4 separate regions of the Homo sapiens genome follow, and regions 1, 2 and 4 are each linked to region 3. The links come from fine-mapping of genetic effects on gene expression. A gene starts in region 3. Each other region holds a variant in brackets. All regions are shown on one strand. Distances are from middle to middle. Region 1 overlaps NIPAL2 (NIPA like domain containing 2). Region 2 overlaps NIPAL2 (NIPA like domain containing 2). Region 3 holds the start of NIPAL2 (NIPA like domain containing 2). Region 4 overlaps NIPAL2 (NIPA like domain containing 2).

Region 1 (5,000 bases), 58 kb after region 3:
CATGCCTGGTTTACCCTGTGTGAAACTTCCATTCCTGTAAGTAACCTGCCCGGGAAAAGTTTTGAAGGACAAAGATCAACCAGAATGAGAAAAAGCTAAGTTGAGGAAAAAAAAAAAAAGGAAACAAATAGCATCTCATCTTATCCTGCATGAGGGTTTCTGGTGTGGACTTATTTTGTTTTCAATAAATTGCCGGAACATCAGATATAGTCACATTCAAATTTAACCACAGCATCTGTTTAATGGATTATTATACCAACATTAAAATTATGTCTATGAAGAATTCTTGATGACATGGCAAATTGTAATGTGTTAACTGAGGAAACTGAGAAAGGAAATTTGATATTAAAGTTTGATCTCAACTGAAGGGAAATAAAAACACCAATATATTAACTGCAATTTTCTTTACAGGATGATATTATTTTATGATAACTTTTCTTTCCTGTACTTTTACTTTTAAAAAACAACCAGCAAATAGTTTTTGTTAAAAATTTACAGCATATATTATGTTGCATATCTTTTTGTATTATTGCAATTTTGGATTTTCCCATGCCTATACTCATAAATGACCCCATAACAGGGACAACTCAGAGAGGTTCAGTTTAACCCTGGTACCTGAGGCGACAGTAGCAGACGATGGCTCGACTGTGAGGGAGAGAGTCCAGTAGTGTCACTAATGGGAAAGAGAACAACTGCAAGGCTGAGATCCCATACTCTTTCATTTCATTCAATGAGCATTTATTGAACACCTTTTATGTGCTAGATACAGCTACTCACTGGAGATCTTAGAAGAATAAAAAGACATATCTCAGATTAAAAGGAACTGATGGTCTTTCGGGGAAGACAGGCAAATAAATCTTAGGTGTAGTGAAAAAGCTATACACAGGGGTAATCAGAGCATAAGGGTGGCGGGATCAGCTCAGCCCAGGGGAATCCAGAGGTGACACTTGAGTCTAGAGCTGGTCACAAGGACAGGGCAGAGCTGGACATGTAAAAGCCATTAAGCATGAAACTGCATGGTGGATTCTGGGAATTATAATTACTTCAGTAAAGGTGGGCTACAGATTATCAAATAAAGACAAATGTGGTGACCAAAGCATCAGAAGCAAAATCATAGCTCTTTGAGTGTTCTGCTTGGTAGTGTGGCCTTTGTCCTGTAGACCAGCCACTTAGGGGTTTGAAAGCAGTGGATTTACATTAGATTTGCATTTTAGAGCGATTACTCTGGTGGTGGTATGGGGAAAGGGGAAAAGGGGGAAATGGGAGGTCAGAGGGAAGCTAAAGGTCTAAGCCAGAGAAGCTGCCCTGAGCTTGGGATAGGGCTGGTGATCACAGGAATGAAGAGTTGGGAACAGACCTAACAAAGAGTGAAATAAGGCTGGTTGCGGTGGATTACGCCTGTAATCCCAATACTTTGGGAGGTCGAGGCAGGAGGATCACTTGAGCCCAGGAGTTTGACACCAGCCTGGGCAACATAGTGAGACCCCATTTCTAAAAATAAAAAAATTTTTAATTAGCTGGGAGTGGTGGCATGAGCCTGTGGTCCCAGCTACTCGAGAGGATCACTTGAGCCTAGGAGTCCAATGTTGCAGTGAGTTATGATCTTGCCACTGCACTCCAGCCTGGGCAACAGCGCAAAACCCTGTCTCAAAAAAAAGAAAAAAATAGAGTGGACTATAGATTTAGACCCAGTGACCTGTTGGATGTGGATCGTCAAATAGAAGAGAAATAGGAGCAGTCCTGGGATTCTGGTGTTAAGTAGATACAGGAATTGTCGGAACAGGAATTATAGGAGGAGATGCTGGGAAATCATGAGTTTCAGTTTAGCACATATTTAAAGTTCTTCCTGTCCTTTTTTTTTTTTTTTTTTTTTTTTGAGACAGGATCTCCTTCTGTCACTGAGGCTTCAGTGCAGTGGTGCCATCATGGCTCACTGCAGCCTCAACCTCCCAGGCTCAAGAAATCCACCCACCTCAGCCTCCCCAGTAGCTGGGACTACAGGCCCACGCCACCATGCCCCACTAATTTTTTGTATTTTAAGTAGAGATGGGGTGTTTCACTATGTTGCCCAGGCTTATCTTGAACTCCTGGACTCAAACTCCTCCCAAAGTGCTGAGGCTTACAGGCATGATCCACTGCACCCTGCCCCATCCTTCTTTCTTTCCTTCCTATCTCTTCCTGTCTTTCTAATCCTTCCTGCTCTTTCTGCCCCTTCCTGCTCTTTCTGCCTTTCTTCTTTCTTTCATTTGTTCTGTCTTTTAGCAAACTTTTATTAAGCCTTCACTATATACAAGACACTGTCTCAGCCACATCCATTGTAAACCACACCAATTTCCACATATCCTCAGCCACAGGGGGAAGAAAGGCCTTTTTATAGCCACAACTGCTGAATGTCTCTGATCAGGACATAGCTCATCAGGCATAAGGCACAAATTGCTTAACTTCTTTCAAATGGCATTGCGTAATAGACACTTTTATATTGGAACTACCACTAATGGCCATTTTCTTTATAGGTAGTGCCATTATTTCTGTTACATTTCTGAAAGACAATTTGAGAGCCTCAGACTTACTCGGTAAGTAATTATTTAATTCATGTAATTGTAGCATTGCTTGATCAGGAAATAAATAATACAATCCATAAAAAATATGTGCGATAAAAACTGGAAACAAATTACTGAAATGGGTGTAAGTCTCATTTAGAGTCAGGCATTATTCTGTCTTGGAGCTGCCATCTCTTCTC[G/A]CATAAAATACTTCCATTTCTATTGTGACTACTGCTAAATGTGATCAATTTTTGCTATAGCAAATTATTAATTAATAATTATAATGAATTATTATAAAATAATTTATGATTATAATATTAATCAGTTGAAGGGATTATATTATTATAATGCACTGAATTATAATTTCATAACATTTTATTATTATAATAACCCATTAAAATACAAATACTTTAGGCACTTTAAATAAAACAATGCCTCCCTTCTTCCAGGGAGATCATATTTTTTTTAAAATTTGAGCTCTAAATGTGACACTAGTGTTGGTATGTTGAGCATTTGTATATTTTATAATGGGTTATTATAATAATATTAATGTTATAAAATTTTATGAACACCATAAAATTCAATGAAAACATTTGTGTTACCTAATAGACTATTACACTCCAAAGGATATATTTGTTATATTGTTACACGAAAGTATTGCATAAAAATGAAAACCACAAAAAATTTGATGCATCAACTAACTAAAATTTATATTTGGCTTTTCCCAAAAGTAGCACAGACCATTGTTCTTAAATATTTTATTTGGAAATACAGTTATTAATGGAAAATGACAGTAGCCTTCCTGGCTGTAAGAAACATTTCTGATGTATGGCAAAGCCATCACTTATGTGTTGAATTTTCCAGCTATTGTTGGACATATCATTGGTGAGAAGAATTATAGAGATTCATATTTTCTTCCGTGACAAAATCCTGTTTGAATTGCTGCTGACATATGATAATGAATACAAATACTTTAGGCACTTTAAATAAAACAATGCCTACCCTCTTCCAGGGAGATCATATTTTTTTTAAATTTTGAGCTCTAAATGTGACACCAGTGTTGGTATGTTGAGCATTTGTTTTCCCTGATCATGTTTCCCTTGAGCGTAATGTCTTGAAAATGTTTTCTCTTTTTCTTTTCCTCCTTGGTTTGATTCTGCTAGCAGAGTTTTTAGTCAACATTGTCAAATTTTTCATGGTTAAATGTTTTTCTAAATGCATTCATATGTGGATTCTATCTCTTCCAACATATTATTTTTCTATACCCTTTTTTATATATTGTGGTTTGTAGAATCATTTGGGGAAGTTGTATGGACTCAGAAATAAGAATGGCCAATGCCTGATGCAGTGGCTGATGCCTATAATCCCAGCACTTTGGGAGGCCGAGGCAGACGGATTGCTTGAGTCCAGGAGTTCGAGATCAGCTTGGGCAACATGGCAAAACCCCGTCTCTACTGAAAAAAAAAAAAAAAAATAGACAGGTGTGGTGTCATGCACTTGTAGTCCCAGCTACTTGGGAGGCTGAGGCAGGAGGATCACCTGAGCCTGGGAGGACGAGGCTGCAGTGAACCAAGATTGCACCACTGCACTCCAGCCTGGGCAACCGGAGTGAGACTCTATCTCAAAAAGAAAAAAAAATGACCAATACCTGAGTTTTATAAACTAAAAATTAGGTCCTAGATATATTATTTTTCTCATTTATCAAGTGGCTTAAGGGAACTTTAAATCCTTTTATCTAATATCTGTCACCTTTTATAGTTAATGATTGAATAATGATCAAATTAATCTAAGGTATTTAATGAGAGAATGCAGATATAAAGGGGGATTTGCTGACTAATCTTGAATATTAGTGATAAATGATAATTAAGACAGAATCCCCGTCCACAAGTAATTTATAGTCCATGATAATATAGATTCATAAATAGGTTTTTTTTTAAGTAGAAAAGAATATGTGCCATAATGTCATGAGTCTTTAGTTTAGAAGTGTTTCTGAATCAGCATTGCTGACATTTGGGGCCAGATCATTCTTCATTGTAGGGGCTGCCCTGTGCACTGTAGGATCATTAAGATCCCTCCTGACCTTTACCCACTAGATCCCTCTAACATCCTCCCACTCAGTTATGACAACCAAAAATGTCTCCAAACATTCCAAAATGTCTCCTAGGGGACAAAATTACTCAGGTTTAGCCCTGTTCTTCTCTAGCTGAGAAGATCAGAGAGAATTTTTTACAGCAGAGATAACATTTGAATTGGTTCTGACAGCTGGGCAGGACAGGCATAGGCTACATCCAATAATTTGGAGGAGGACATACAGAGGGAATAACATGAGAAATGTTAACAAAGATACAAAAAGGTAAAGTAAGTTTCTATTTCATACTGCACCTTAACTCCTGCCTGTAAGGCTTAGGAAAAAATAAATGCAAGTTGTAACTATGGAAAGGAAGAAATAAAAATATCAAT
Region 2 (5,000 bases), 86 kb after region 3:
AAAAGAAATATTCTCAAATTGGACATCAGGGAAACTTCCAGATTGATTTTGAAAATGATTCTGAAATTGGATTCAGCCAATTTGCACTAGTACAGCTGTAAGGATTATTCAAATAGCAGCCACCATGCTTCCTTCCCCTAATATCTGCTCCTCTCAACCCCAGCCCCGTCATGATAAATACTAAGACAGGGGTTCTCCAGGACCCTCTTCCAGCAGTGCCACAGCCAGCACCCTTTCTGATTGGCCCTTGCAGGTTGCGAAGTGTTTTGGCTACATGCATAAATTTTCATCTAAAACAAGGTAAATCAGCTTGAAAGTAAAACAAAGCAGGAGGTCATGATATTACTAAATGAAAATTAAGGCAGAAGATATTAAGTGAGATAAAAGGGGTAATTTATCCTGACAAAAAGAGCACAATCCACAAAATATCATATCCAATATGCAACAGAAAATCTGCAGAAAATGCAAAACTACACTAACAGAAATATAAGGGGGTTAGGAGACTTCTCTCAGCTCATGGAAGATAATTAGACAGAAACCCATATAAAGACAGAGGATCTGAATAATTAATCATGAACTGGTACCTCTAATATTGAACTCTAAATCCTGAAAACAGAGAATAAACTTTCTTTCAAGTGCCTGTGTAACGTTTACAAAAGTTGATCCTATAATTGGCCATAAAGAAATCCTTGATAAATTCCAGGAAGTTGAAAGAATACAGACCACATCCTCAGATCACAGTGAAATAAAAACAGAAAAATAATAACAAAAATAGAAACCAGTAAAACCCTACCACCTGGAAATGTTAACACTACCCTTAAACTGCAGCTGTGCAAAGTACAAACCAAGATTTAATTGCAGCATATTTTTAAATTATTATTAAAGCACTTAATATTAAACCTAGAGTTCATGACTAATGCTGTATTCAGAGAGATTGATTGCTTTAAATGTAAGTCAATTAAGCATTCAACTCAAGAAATTAGAAAAAATACTGAAATAAAGCTAAGGAAAGCAGAAAGAATTAATTAAAATTAATTAAAAAGGCAAAAATTAATGAAATAGAAAAGAGAAAAGTAATGGATTTATAACTAAACACAACATGTTCTTAAAAGACAACTAATAAAATAGATCCTCCATCAGAAAAAAAGAAAAACCACAAATACCCCAAAATAGAAATGATAGATAGATATGCATATATATAAATTTGAATGAATTGCTTATTTTTTAATGAAAATAACTATGGAGGAAATAAAGGAGTTGTTAAAAAGCTATATCCTAAAAAAGAACCAGGCCTAGAGAGTTCCAAAGGTAATATCTTCAAATCCTTAAGGAATAGATTATTCTGATGCTGTTGCAACTATTTGAGGACATAAGAAGAAAGCTTTTACTTTTTAGAAAACATAATCAGATGAGACTCACCTCCCAAAATGGGAAACAAAATAGGACAAACAAAAAACACTATGAACTAATATCACTGCTAAATATTGATACAAAAATCCAAAAAAAAAAAATTAGCAAATAAAACAGAGCAAATCATACTCAGTGACAAAATGGTCTTTGTTTTGTTTTGAGACAGAGCCTTGCTCTGTCACCCAGTCTGGAGTATAGTGGCACAATCATAGCTCACTGCGGCTTCAAACTCCCAGCCTCAAGTGATCCTCCTACCTCAGCCTCCTGAGTAGCTGGGACTACAGATGCGTGGCATCATGCCTGGCTAATTTTTTTTTTTTTTTTTTTTTTTGGAGAGACAGGGTATCCCCATGCTGCCCGGGCTGGTTGCAAACTCCTAGGCTCAAGCAATCCTCCTGCCTCACCTTCCCAAAGTGCTAGGATTACAGGCATGGGCCACCACACCTGGCCCAAGTGGTCTTAATAAAACTGGTTCTTCTCTGTAACACTTACAACAATTTGCACTTACATATTCTACTTATATGTTTATATGCTGTTATGAGCCCCTCTTCCTGGCCAGATTAGAGCATGTCTATTATTTACAGTATATATTCTTTAAGTAGAATTGAGCACAGTAATCACACAGTAAACATTTGAATTTAATTAACTATGGGAATGAAAGAAGGATTCTTTAAGAAATTCATTAATATAGTTCATCAAGTTTCATATGCACTCCTGATAAAGAACTTGTTGGTGAAATACCAGAAGCGTTCTCATTACAGCAAGAAATGAGAACCAAGATGCTCACTCTGCACTGTGTGCTCATCTTGAATATTGTAAATGAGCATTAGTACGTTTTAAAAAAGTAATTATGAAAGTCATGTTGTATCCATGAGACGTAACAAAGTACATGATATTGCTTGTGTGATTGATAAAAAATGGAATTAAAAAAAAGAAAATAGCAAGTGAGGGTAGTCAGAAGAAAGAAACCTGGCTTCTGGCGAGTGGCCCACTTTGCCAGTAGTGGTGATCATTCTTAAAGGACTCCAGGCCTGGTGTGATGGCTCACACCTGTAATCCCAGCACTTTGGGAGGCCATGGCAGGTGGATCACCTAAGGTCAGGAGTTTGAGACCAGCCTGGCCAACATGGTGAAACCCCAGCTCTACTAAAAATACAAAAATTAGCCAGGTGTGGTTGTGGGTGCCTGTAATCTCAGCTACTCAGGAGGCTGAGGCAGGACAATTATTTGAACCCACGAGGTGGAGATTGCAGTGAGCCAAGATCGCACCATTGCACTCCAGCCTGGGCCACAAGAGCAAAACTCCACATCAAAAAAAAAAGTACTCTAACGCCTCTGGGTTGATCAGGAAACCAGGAAGGCCAGGAAGTCCTTCTCTATCCATGGAATGCTTTGGTTATCAGAGACAAATTAGTAAATAAAATGTTTATGGCTCTCATAAGGAAATGTTGATGGCAACCTAG[A/G]AAAATTTTTGAAAGGAGGTATATTGATGAAAATCTAAGAGGGAATTGAGAGGGCCAAATTTCAAAAACAGGTCAGCACATGTTTAGAAAAAATGGTGTTGTTCTAATGATGAAAGTATACATGGTAATTATTGACAATTACGAAAATAGAGAAAGATACAAAGAAAAATACAAAAATCTGTGCAATTGAGCACTGTACAACAGAGTGTGACTGGTACTCTCTGGAAGGCAGTTTGCTAGTATATTTCACAAGCCTTCACAGTGGCTGTAGTCAGGAATTCCCCTTTGGTGGTTTTCCTAAGGAAATAGGCAGAGTGATAAACAAAGACTTACGTTCAAGAATATTCATCACAGCCCCGCTTTTAATAGTTAAAAAAAAAATGGATACAACCTAAATATCCAAAAATAGGGAATTGCCAAAATAAATTCATACAAATTCATGGTTTAGAAGAATACTTAATGAAATAGAAAATACTTTAGGTAAATAGGTTCCTAAGTGGTATATACTTGGAAAATGAGCTCCTAAGTAGCATATACCTTATGATTCACATGTTGTAACCTATTCATACTTATAGATAGGAAAATAACAACATGTCCAAATGTCAAAAATGATTTGAGGTGAGTGCTGAAACTACAGGCAATTTTAATTTTCCTTTCCAGGCTTTCCCACATTTTCCAAAAATTTTTAAATGAATATGTTTACTTTTGTAGATTTTTTTAATGAATTTCAAGTTAATTCATTATCCCAGTGCTAGAGATAACCACTGACAATATCTTGATGTAGTTTATTCTCATCTTTTTTTCTGTGCTTACCTAAGTACCTTCTATTTTTAAGTATAATGTTAGAAGAACACTGCATTACAATTATGTATTTCCACCTATCCTCATCAACCACCCCCCAAAAATACTTAGAAGTACTCAACACCAGCCTAGAAATAATTTACAGGTTAAAATAGTGATTAATCAGTTGACAATTGTGCATGCTTTGAAAATGTAACGATTGGCTACAGAAATTGATAGTTTGTTTAGCTATCAATAACAGAGAATTCTAGTTTTGTCTTTGTCTTGTGTTTAAGTATAATATAAAATCAGATAGTGGTTAAATCAGATGACCTTTAAGGTCCTTTGCAATTCTGAGGTTCTGAGGCTAATGGAACAGTACGTTCAACTCCTTCTCCATTAATTGTCCCGTTGGGAAACCTGGCTGTTCAGACCACAAGATCATAATCACACTGTGTTCTAATTTCAGGCAGTGTTTAGAAGGAAATCAAGGTCCCTCAAGAGCTAACCTACAAACTTAAACCATCAAGTGACACACAGATCTCTATAGATATTTAAAATGCCTAGTTTAGCTAAGATGTGGCTACTAGCATAATCAGTAGGAAATATGTAAAAGAATCAGGTCAAAAGACATCTTAAGATGGAGAAAGGCCTGATTGTAAGGGCCTCTTTGTTGAGAAGTGGGGTTTGTTTTTAGAATTTATCACCTGATCTCCTCTGTCAATTATGATTTTTTTTTCCTTTTTTTTTTTTTTTTGAGACAGAGTCTCGGTCTGTCACCCAGGCTGGAGTGCAGTGGCCCTCTGCGAACTCCGCCTCCTGGGTTCACGCCATTCTCCTGCCTCAGCCTCCCGAGTAGCTGGGAATACAGGCATCCACCACCATGCCCAGCTAATTTTTTGTATTTTTAGTAGAGACAGGGTTTCACTGTGCTAGCCAGGGGATGGTCTCGATCTCCTGACCTCATGATCCGCCCGCCTTGGCCTCCCAAAGTGCTGGGATTACAGGTGTGAGCCACCGCGCCCGGCCAATTATGATTTTTAACTAAAAGAAAATGCCTAATTTGGAAGTGTGCCCTAGTACCCTTCAAGTTAAAGTATATTTTCAGTTTTTGGAAAACGATATTATGGGAGGCTTTTCTTGGCTGGCCACCACTTGCTGTTTTAAATATATATATATTTCAAATACATACATACATACATACATATATATATATACACACACACACATACATAAAATACCTTTTCAAATAAAATGAAGGAAACTCAGATATATTATGACCAAGTAGATCAACAGCAACAAAAGGAGTATTTCTCCTTCGCATTGCCTTTGACTTATAGTTTTTTT
Region 3 (5,289 bases):
TTTAAACAAATGTAAAGAAATTGAAAATGTTTTTTTAAATTAAGAAATAAAATGGGAACAAGTTGAGTATAGCAGAGTATCAACTAAAGGGAAAAAAATCAAGCTTTTAAAGAATTAAACTTAGTTTTATTCAGAAGTCTCACTGAATTGTTTGAGGCCAGGAGTTCTAGACCAGCCTGGGAAACATAATGAGACCCCATCTCTACAAAAAATTAAAAAAAAAAAAAAATTGTCTGGGCGTGGTGACTCACGCCTGTAATCCCAGCACTTTGGGAGGCTGAGGTGGGTGGATCATGAGGTCAGGAGATCGAGACCATCCTGGCTAACACGATGAAACCCAGACTCTACTAAAAATACAAAAAATTAGCTGGGCGTGGTGGCGGGCATCTGTAGTCCCAGCTACTCAGGAGGCTGAGGCAGGAGAATGGCGTGAACTCGGGAGGCGGAGCTTGCAGTGAGCCGAGATTGTGCCACTGCACTCCAGCCTGGGTGACAGAGCAAGACTCTGTCTCAAAAAAAAAAAAAGTGTGGACTTCATTATGGCAATAGGGAGGCTTCAAGGCATTTTAAACCAGAAAGTAACACAATCCATTTAGTATTTTGCTTGTTAGCAACTGTACAACTACTTACAATCTGGCTGATAGAAAAATACTAGAGTGGTTGTACCAGGGTTGACTGGTTCCCCTCCCCCATAACCCCATGGCATTCCCACTCATCCTGGTTGGTAGAGCTTACCTCTCACTAGGTTGGAAATACCCAAGAATCACTTTCCCAGCCTCCCTTGCTGGTAGAACATGGGCATGTGACCCAGTCCCAGCCAATGGGATCTGAGGTGAAAGGATGCCAGGAGGATTCTGGAAAAGGCTTTCCTCCCTCAATGGACAAGACCAGTACCTCAGGGATAGCAGAGCAGAAAGGTGGAAGTGACGACATAATAGAACCACATAGAGACACATTCCTCTGGAGATAGCAGATAATTATTGTTTAAGCCACTTTTATTTGGATACTCTGTTACTTGCACCCTAAAGCATGTGAAGAGAAAGAAGCATTAATGAAGTCACCAATATCAATGAATGTGATGTTATAGAAAACTTATCAGACAAGGCATGGCAGCTCACACCTGTAATCCCACCACTTTGGGAGGCCGAGGTGGGACAACTGTTTGAGGCCAGGAGTTCTAGACCAGCCTAGGAAAAATTGCGAGACCCTGTCCCTACAAAAAAATAGAAAAATATTAGCCAGGGCCAGGTGTGGTGGCTCACACCTGTAATCCCAGCACTTTGGGAGGCCAAGACAGGGGGATCACTGGAGGTTAGGAGCTTGAGGCCAGCCTGACCAACACCGTGAAACCCTGTCTCTACTAAAAATACAAAAATTAGCCGGGCTTGGTGGTGTGCACGTGTAGTCCCAGCTACTCAGGAGGCTGAGGCAGGAGCATTGTTTGAACCCAGGAGGCAGAGGTTGCAGTGAGCTGAGATTGTGCCACTGCACTGCAGCCTGGGCAAGAGAGAGAGACTCTATCTAAAAAAAAAAAAAATTAGCTGGGCATGGTGGCATGCACCTGTATGTAGTCCCAGGTGGGAGGATCACTTGGGCCCAGGAATATGAGGCTAAAGTGAGTCAAGATCACACCACTGCACTCCAGCCTGGGCAACAGAGCAAGACCCTGTCTCAAAAAATAAAATAAAATGTAATATAACAAATAGAGACCTTTTTCCTTCAGATATTTATTTGAAGTAAATCAGCCTCTTAAAATTGGGAATAGTTACCTACAATTGTTAGCTGTTCACTGAACATCTCGAGTGCTTAAGCAAGAAACTACACAATTTCTGAGACGACATGTCTTGTTTTTTCTGTATGTGAAATGACTTTTTCTCACTCTTTTCTCTCATTTGCACATTTCCCCTAAGAAACACTGAAAACTGTCCCTGCTCCCTTCTAGGCAGCAATTCTCTTTTCTTGAAGGTCTCTCTTTCATGAACTCATGGAAGTCAAAGCACATTATCTAAGAAAAACCTCAGCATTGTGTAAACAAAAGAAGGCAACTATCAGCCTTCAGGCAACAGTATAGAATCATGGTTTTTTTAAAGTGAGAAATACCCTACAGATCATTTGTGGTCACACATTAGAATTTGAATACAGGTAAAACCAGAACATCTCGTTAGAGTTCTTAAGATTAATAACAACATTTATCTTTCATCCTAAATTCATATATACAGTAGCTGGCAACTTTTCAGCAACTCCACCTGATCCCATCTGAAGCAAACCCAATCCAGTCATCGCACACTGGGGTCCTATGGCTACCACATTCCTCATTCAAGGAATATTTACTAAGGATCTATCAAGCACTGGCACTGAGATTCAATCGCTCGGATCTTTTTTTCTCATATTGCTTACAATATTTCTGGGAACTCATGACTTTTTCATATGCAATCAATTTTTAAAATATCGGTGAGAAACACTACATATGTGATAGAGGACTGGAATTGCCAGGTAGAGATGGGAGATGATAGCTGCTTTGGGTTAGTCAGTGTCTCCTCCTCTTCCATTGACTTGGACAAATGTTTACAACGGAGATGATCTGATTCTGGCCCCGACAGGCGCGGGGACCCGTTGCGGACGGCCGCGGGGATTGCCCCCTTGGGCAGTGCGGCCCCGAGGATGCAGACACTGGCCCAGCGGAAGGAGGGCGCGGTGCGAGCTGGACGGCCCCGGGAGGCCGCAGACCGCCGGGCTCCCCGAGGACACCTCGCACCGGAGGAGGAGAGGAGGCAGCGCCCGGCCAGGCTGGGAGCACCTACGGCCGCGCGGGGGCGGGAGCCAGGTGGCCTCGGCGCGCCCGCCTCGCCCGGGCACCGAGCAGGAAGTGGCTGCGGCGCGGCCTCCTCGCGGTGCAACAGGGCGGGGAGGCGGCCGCAGCCCGAGCCGGAGCCCGAGCGCCGGGAGCGAGACCTCATGGCAGCGGTGGCGCCCGCGGGCCCCGGGGACTCCGCCTCGGCCGCCCTGGACGAGCTGTCACTGAATTTCACGTACGGGGCACCAGGCGCCGGCAACGGCTCCCTCTCGGGCGACTGGTACCGCAGGAACCAGGTAAGGGCCGCCCCGCAGCCACCGCAGCCCGGTGGGGACGCGGCCAGGGCGGCTGGCTCCGGGCGCCTCTGCGCCTCGGCCGCTTTCCTGCCAGCTCTCAGGAAGACACCCGGCCTCTCCGAGTGGGAAGAGGTGACATGCAATGTTTCCCGCATTGACCTAAGTCCGCCTCATCCGGAAGCGCGGGGGTCCGCCCAGTCTTCCTCTCCCGGGCACCCGGCACTGGGAGTGGGCGCCCAGGTCTTCGGCCTTGACCTCAGCCACCCGTTCCTGGGACCTCCGGGTCCCGATCCCGCCTCCCCAGCCTGCGTCCGCCCTCTTCTCCCGGAAGGAATCTAGGAGTGTGGGGGCAATTCACTCATTTTCACCCCAGGATCCTTTTACAGTTAAAAGAAAAGAAAAAAGTGACACCCTGTTATCAGAAGCAGAAAACTCATTAAGGGCAGCCTAATGTCACCTCGCGCAGATGCCCTGCGTGTGTCCCTGGTATCTCAACACAGCTCTTCCATTTCCGTGCGAGGAACACATTTTCTCAGGTTGCATTTGCAGGACTCTCATTCTTTCCCACCGGCCCTTTGGGAAAACTTTGTTAACTTAAACAACGCCAGTTTACACTGGAAATATACATTTAACAAAATCAAAGGGACTTGGAGCCGCCCATTTATTTTTGGCTTGGTTTAAGATGAGGAAGTGTTCTGGCCAGCCCTTCCTCTAGCAGCGTTCATATTGCAACTAAGTTTTATCACGGTGGATTCCAGGCTTCCTCCTGTTTTCATTAAATGTGTTACTTTGTTCTTGTTCTTTAACAAAACCATGGATACTTTTATTTTTGCAACAATATAATCAGAAAATATTTGTTGCTGTTGTCCTAAATCGGAGAGTTTAACCAATTATCAAAGATCTGGATTCCTTTTATGCCTGAAGTGTTCTAAATATTAATTTCTGAATGCAGAAGAGAATATATTTGTATAAAGAATAAGTAAGATAAATAAGCATGTTCACTTTATTAGTTTTCAAGAGGGGAGAGTATTGCTTTAAGTCATTTCATCATAAAAGATATAAAAATAGGAAAAATGAGGGTACTCAGAGCCTCTTGATCAATGTTTGTAATCCAACCCCATTTCTCCTTTCTTCTACCCACAGGAATTACAAAGAAAAGCATCATTTTTATGGGAACTTGAATCTATCTATTATATTATTCTTTTATTAGAAGTATTCCCAATATAAGTTTAAGAATGAGTTATCTATCCCCTCTTGATTAAAAAAAAAAAAAAAATAGAGGGTTAGCAGATGTGATCATCCAAAAACAGGACATTGTTTTCACAGTGGAAACCTCTGTAGTCATTAGTTTTCTTTGACATTTCCTGGAATTCTTGATTGTCTTGGCTGTCTGATATCCAAACACAGATTATCATGTGACATAAATGTGAGGCAAATAAATACTGTTTGCAAGGCTTAATTTGCCTTTGACAGTGTGTATTTGTACAGGTTAGAAAGGATGTATCCAGAATGTGCTAATTGAAATTACTGAGCTGACATCTAAACTTTGCTGGTTTGAGATAAAACTGTATCAAGTTTTGCCATTATTGTGCAAATTTAGGCCCTCTTATAAGATGGTGGTATTTTATCTTTTCAGTAATTGCATTTGTGTTAAGCAAAAGTAAAAATTAATTTTTAAAAAGTTTACTCGAGAAGCATTTTATTGAGTGCCTCTGGTGTTGTCCAGGCCAGTAAAAATAAAATTGAGTCTAATTTTTCTTGTCTTTTTTGACACTGAATAGAAATGGCTGAAAATGGGTGTGGATACAGAAAAACAAAGTGTGAGATATAAATGTGTCACTCCCACAATCAAAATGAATGTTGGTTGCTAACTAGCCACAGCTTAATGATGCTTATTTGCTTGCCTCCATTGGTTTTATCACAACTAAAATATTTGCACAGTGTGTGTTGGCTGATAGCCTAGTTCTCTGTCCCTTTATCCCTTCCAAAGTGATTATCATCAAATCTGATCAATTAACCTTACTACATAGAAAAAGACAAACTTCCCTGGAATGCTTTCATGTAATACATGTTTAACAGTGGCCACTTAGAATCAATGTTGTCTAAGACAAAGGTGTGAGTGCTTCTGGAGGAAGAAACCTCAAAGCAACTCAAAAGTAGTAGTTCAGTGGGGGAAGATGTCTTAGGAGCAGGGAAGTG
Region 4 (5,000 bases), 47 kb after region 3:
ATTTTGTCTCACATAATCAAAATTTCTGCTCCTTTTGTGTACTTTGAGTATAATATATATTTGTATACTTTGAGTGTAATATATTCGATTATATATTATATATAATTATATTAAATATATGATATTTAATATATTTGTATTAAATAATGTAAATATAATTTTATTGATTATGTTTAATATATTTAATATAATTATATTGATTATCTTTAATATATATTTAATATATTAATTATATTTAATATAATTATATTAAATTGTATTATGTTATACATTTAATATATATTAAATATAGTTACATATTAATAGATAATATATTAATTGAATATGTGTTCAATTAAAGTATACATGTCATATGATTGACATGTATATACGTATGACATATATGACATGTATGTCATATATGACATATGTCTGACATATACTAGTCATATATAGGACTCATTTGTAAGAAGCACCACAGTTAGCAATATAGGCATTTCAACTTGCCCTCTACCCATGTTTTCCTTTCTTGAAGCATCTTTCTTCTGTGCTTTCTTTCCCTCTCTCTGTGTGTCCTGCTGTTCCTCACTGACGTGCTCAGCTTCAGGCAGCATTTGTCCAACATTAGTTTTACAGGTAGATTCATAGGTGTTCTAAGAAACAAAGAATTCCATAATCAAACAGGATTCTGCAATTTGGGGTTTTAAAGGCGACACAGGTTTCATTAGTGTAGAGCTTCTTGGGGCCCTAAAACAGGCCTATGCACACTATGAATCTTTGAGGGGCAGATGCAGTACGCCAGGTCTCCAAAACATACTGAACACATCTGAGATTCCCTTGATTGTATCTCAAGGGACAGCAGTTCTGCAGAAAACCCTTTAGGGAATTCTTAAGGCAAAGCTCACAGGCAGTCACATTGTGCTAGAGACTCAGCCTAAATAACCCGTCTATGCTTCACTGTGAAGACGGCACAATGGGGAAAGATCTCAGTGCACAGGGATGCCCAGGCCTGGGTCCAGCTTTTTGAGAGAGTCAGAACCTTTGTATCCTTGTGTCATCTTTTAATTTTACTTTATTTTTCTCACTGGAAGTCTTTCTCAATGAATAATACGTCCAAAATCTATTCTGACTAAAATGCTAGTTTTACTAGCAGTGTGGTTAATTCTAGATGTGGATTAGTGTTTCCATTAATTCACAAAGCTTAATTAATGATTTTCAATTTCACCTAGAGGCTAGGTTCAATACTCGTCCAAATAAACCAGGGCAGCAGAAAGGTCAAGAGCTCTAGGGCCACACCGCCAGGGTTCAAATATCAGTTCTGCCATTGGCAAGCTCTGTGACCTTAGGCAAATTATTAAAACCAATTTATGCCTCAGATCCCTAGCCTGTAAAGTGGGAATGAAAGTAGTTCCCATATGAGAGGTCATTGTGCAGAAGAACTGAGTAAACTCAAACATCTAAGGACAGTGTTGGTATTGGTTAGATAGTATTTGACATAATGACAACACTGGCTATTGTCACTATGATTTGTAATTATTATCGTGTAGATAAATAAAATACCTTATTCTTTATAATGGAGCATACTTCCATGCCTCCAAAGATGGCTGATGGTTAAATTCTCTAAAATGGAGAAACCAATTCAAGAAAGGCTTTTTATTGTTCTCATCTATGCAGTGGCTAAATTTACAGAGAGCAATAAAGTAGGATCCTCACAGCTCATTTTTCATCTAATTAAGTAGCAATTACCCTTCAACTCCTTCACATATTCCCTACCAAAACACGGTGGAAAATAGAAGAATTTCCAAATAACCTACCAACACGAAATACATTTTAAAAACCAATACAGGAGTTTGTCAGAGGAAATGCTTAGCAAGCTAGATGTATATACGGTTTTCCATCTTCTTGCTCTGGCTTCAAAGCACTTGTGTTCTCTTGTTCATTAACTACAGAGAGGCCGAATGGCAGATTCCTTTCAGATCAACTGTGATTTGAGGATACGTTTTCTGGGAAACTATTAATATACCAGAAATCCAGTACAAAGAAATAGGTTAGATATTCTGTGGAGTTTGTAATAAAATTTCAAACTGCTGCTAATCCTTCTTGTCTCAGGTAAACCCTTGCTCAAGAGGCCTTCCCTGGCTTTCAGACTAAGGTAATTAAACAGACTTACTCTCTGCTCTCTTCACACCCTACGCAGGCCCTCCTCTCATCTGTGTGGTGCCGTTTTGTGAATTAGAAAAAGGGAGCCCTTTCTCAAAATACTTTATTTCTGTCTGTCTGCAAATGATTGTAATACATTAATTTTGTTAGAGCAGGACAATCTGGGACCATCTGTCAGAGAATTGTGCTGAGAAATACACAAATCAACAAGGTGTGAGATGCGGGTGGTGCCACCTCAGATGTGGAGACTCTCTGCATTGCAAAACTTACACAGCCCGCCCAACCACACACAGC[A/G]ACCCTGCCCTACACTTCCCCTTTGGCACCTCTCAGCATGCGCACAATGACCTGTTTCATGTCCTTCCTCACCATTTAACTGAGACCCAGGGGACTGGTGACTGACTGTGTGTCTCGTTGCTTGACATTTGCCCTTCCTGGGAGAGCACAGCACGGGGAAATCACAAAATGCAGCCTGCAGAATTGGTTCAAATTTGAATTTTGACAAAACAAGGATAGGATGTTCCGTTCTAGGGTGTTGGAAGAGATAAATACTTGCTTAAAAGATTTCAATTCCTAATGAAGCACGGTGGTTAAACAGTTCATTGCAAGAGACTCATGAATATTCATGCTTGTGAACACTCATAGGTCTATAAGCCTGTCCTTTGGGGATTGAGTTCAGTTATTTGTGCATCTCCAAAGCGTGGGCTTACATTTAATGTTTTCCTTTTTCTGTTTATCCCCATGACTGTGATCTATGCTATGCCTAAACATTTAGAGATGATTAAAAACAATGAAGTTATCAACAATCCAAAGAATTGAAGCCACATGGAATTAAATAGCTTCATGGCAGACTTCTCTCAGTATAAAATTAACTTGTCTATGGGGCGGCAAGGAAGTGGGATATGGAGGGAGATCATTGCAGGGGCAAGGAGGGAGGGAGGGAGAAATAGAATGTGATGGAAGCACCGGTGACATTTTTCAGTTCTATGCCTCTGAGTATATTGATTAAAAGTAACTAGAAAAGAGTGCAAGAACATATCAGCTTTTTCCAAGTTAAATTCGGGCAATACTTTAGACAAAGTAATAAAGGTAAGAAACTAATATTGAATGAGCATCCACTATGCCAGGTATGAGACACATAAACTCATTACCTCAATCATTGCCCAGCTGAATGGAAATGAGTAATAAATAGATTGACTTTGGGATAAATTATATTAAATTAAGCACTTGAAATTTTGTATGGAAAGATAATAGCAGCAAGATCTCCATGGCCCTAGAGTAAGTTCCTAAGAGAAGTAGTCGCACTGTTACTGAGCTAATTTGTATTAAGGTTGGAGAGCTAACTGCACTGAGAAAATGAGGAGAGCATGAGTCTGATAAGTCTTTTCCATCTCTAATTTTCCCCAATATGCTGGTTTTTGCTCAAATCAAAATTCATGATGTGGAATACATGTTGTTTTGTGTATTTCTGTGGTGCTGTTATGAAGCCCTAAACTGAAATGTATCTGTAATCCATTAGACGACGGTCATAGCAGAGCCAGGAAGCCCTGGTGAGGCCTTTTGGAATTCCAAAGAAATCATGTCAAGGAGAAACTTTGGTCTCCAAGATTTTTATTAGAAACAAATGAAAGGAAACATAAACAGACCAATGAGCAAGTGACCCATAGCGTTACACAAACCTAGATGCTGCGAATTCTCTTTGTCCCTTAGAGCAGTGTGCTTACTGCCAGCCTGGATGAGGTCACCGGAACTCTAAAACCTCACAGGATGCCTGTGATAGTGTCACTTCACACGGACATTGATTTTAATGTTCAAGATATGCAGAAAATATCACTTTTCTTAGTGGCTTGATGAGTTATCTGCTTTTGCGTGTTTGTCCAAAAACCAGCCTACATAAAATGTGTGAAATAAAACTCTGAAGTTTTAATCTATGTCTGCTCATATACGCTCAGCAGAAAGCATTCCTGAAGCCTAAACACTTTATTTGAAACATCTTTTCCACTCATCCTTATTTTTTCAGCATGCCACAAGAGTATTTCTAGAGAGGCTGCTAATGATGAAGTAACACACAATTAAATTTGTAATACAGAATTAATCTAGTCAGTGGTAGTATTTTTACTTTTTTGGAGTCTTTTCAACTTTAACATTAACGCATGCCAAGAAAAATGTAGAAAAGAAAGGATTATTGTTCTTAATCCAGGTAAGTTCCCTCGTTTGAAATTATGCAAATTGTCTCTGAACGACAGTTCCTTCATTATCTTCAGTAAATGACAATAGCAATTTTTTTAATCAACATGAATTACTTGACACTTTTCTTCCTGCCAACATGAATGGTAGAACTTTTCCCGCTGTAAGATGACATTTTTCAAACTGACATATCCTCAGATATTCAAATCTTAATTCCATGGAATACATTGTAATTGACATACCTCTTTTCCTAAAGTTCTACAACTAACGGGGAATGATAATTATGTAGTAGTACCTCAATATGGTTAGAGTTGACTCTGCCTGTGAGCACGCTCGATGTGTCCACGTGTTTGGAGCTTGATTGTGACTGACATGAAAGTGTTTTTGTGGTTTGCTTTTTAGCAGTACAATAAAGTTGCCATTATAAGTGGTCAGAAACCACAAGCCAGATATTTACATGTGAGGTTCTGTTTGTAGCATTATTATGTAAATATGTTCTTTTCATGTCATGGGTTATTTTCTTTTTATAAGAGAGAGTTTTCCTTAGTGTTTTATCTTCTATTTTCCTATATTATAAATATACATCCTGGTTTCTCTTTATATCACAGAGATGACGTAATAAATTGAATGTCCAGGAAATGAAAATGGATGAAATTTTTATTTGTAGGCTAGATTAG

Evidence for each region.
Region 1: its variant is fine-mapped to the expression of NIPAL2 in whole blood (TOPMed, PIP above 0.99).
Region 2: its variant is fine-mapped to the expression of NIPAL2 in whole blood (INTERVAL, PIP 0.95).
Region 4: its variant is fine-mapped to the expression of NIPAL2 in whole blood (TOPMed, PIP above 0.99).

Annotation. Positions count from the first base shown.
Region 1 is chr8:98,233,728-98,238,727 of GRCh38, reverse strand. NIPAL2 (NIPA like domain containing 2) reads left to right here. Exons shown (of 11, transcript NM_001321635.2): 4 at 2,514-2,573. The region is part of intron 2 of NIPAL2-AS1 (NIPAL2 antisense RNA 1); the gene reads right to left. Among named protein-coding and RNA genes, the nearest start is that of NIPAL2, 58 kb to the left of the region's middle. The variant G/A (reference allele first, on the strand shown) is at 2,741.
Region 2 is chr8:98,206,187-98,211,186 of GRCh38, reverse strand. All of the region lies in intron 6 of NIPAL2 (NIPA like domain containing 2), which reads left to right. All of the region lies in intron 2 of NIPAL2-AS1 (NIPAL2 antisense RNA 1), which reads right to left. Among named protein-coding and RNA genes, the nearest start is that of NIPAL2-AS1, 32 kb to the right of the region's middle. The variant A/G (reference allele first, on the strand shown) is at 2,874.
Region 3 is chr8:98,291,804-98,297,092 of GRCh38, reverse strand. It overlaps NIPAL2 (NIPA like domain containing 2), which reads left to right and starts at 2,858. Exons shown (of 11, transcript NM_001321635.2): 1 at 2,858-3,090. The coding sequence starts at 2,956. The region is part of intron 5 of LOC105375659 (a long non-coding RNA gene); the gene reads right to left. RefSeq lists a silencer at 2,619-3,338.
Region 4 is chr8:98,244,888-98,249,887 of GRCh38, reverse strand. The region is part of intron 3 of NIPAL2 (NIPA like domain containing 2); the gene reads left to right. NIPAL2-AS1 (NIPAL2 antisense RNA 1) reads right to left here. Exons shown (of 3, transcript XR_928444.3): 3 at 520-632. Among named protein-coding and RNA genes, the nearest start is that of NIPAL2, 47 kb to the left of the region's middle. The variant A/G (reference allele first, on the strand shown) is at 2,434.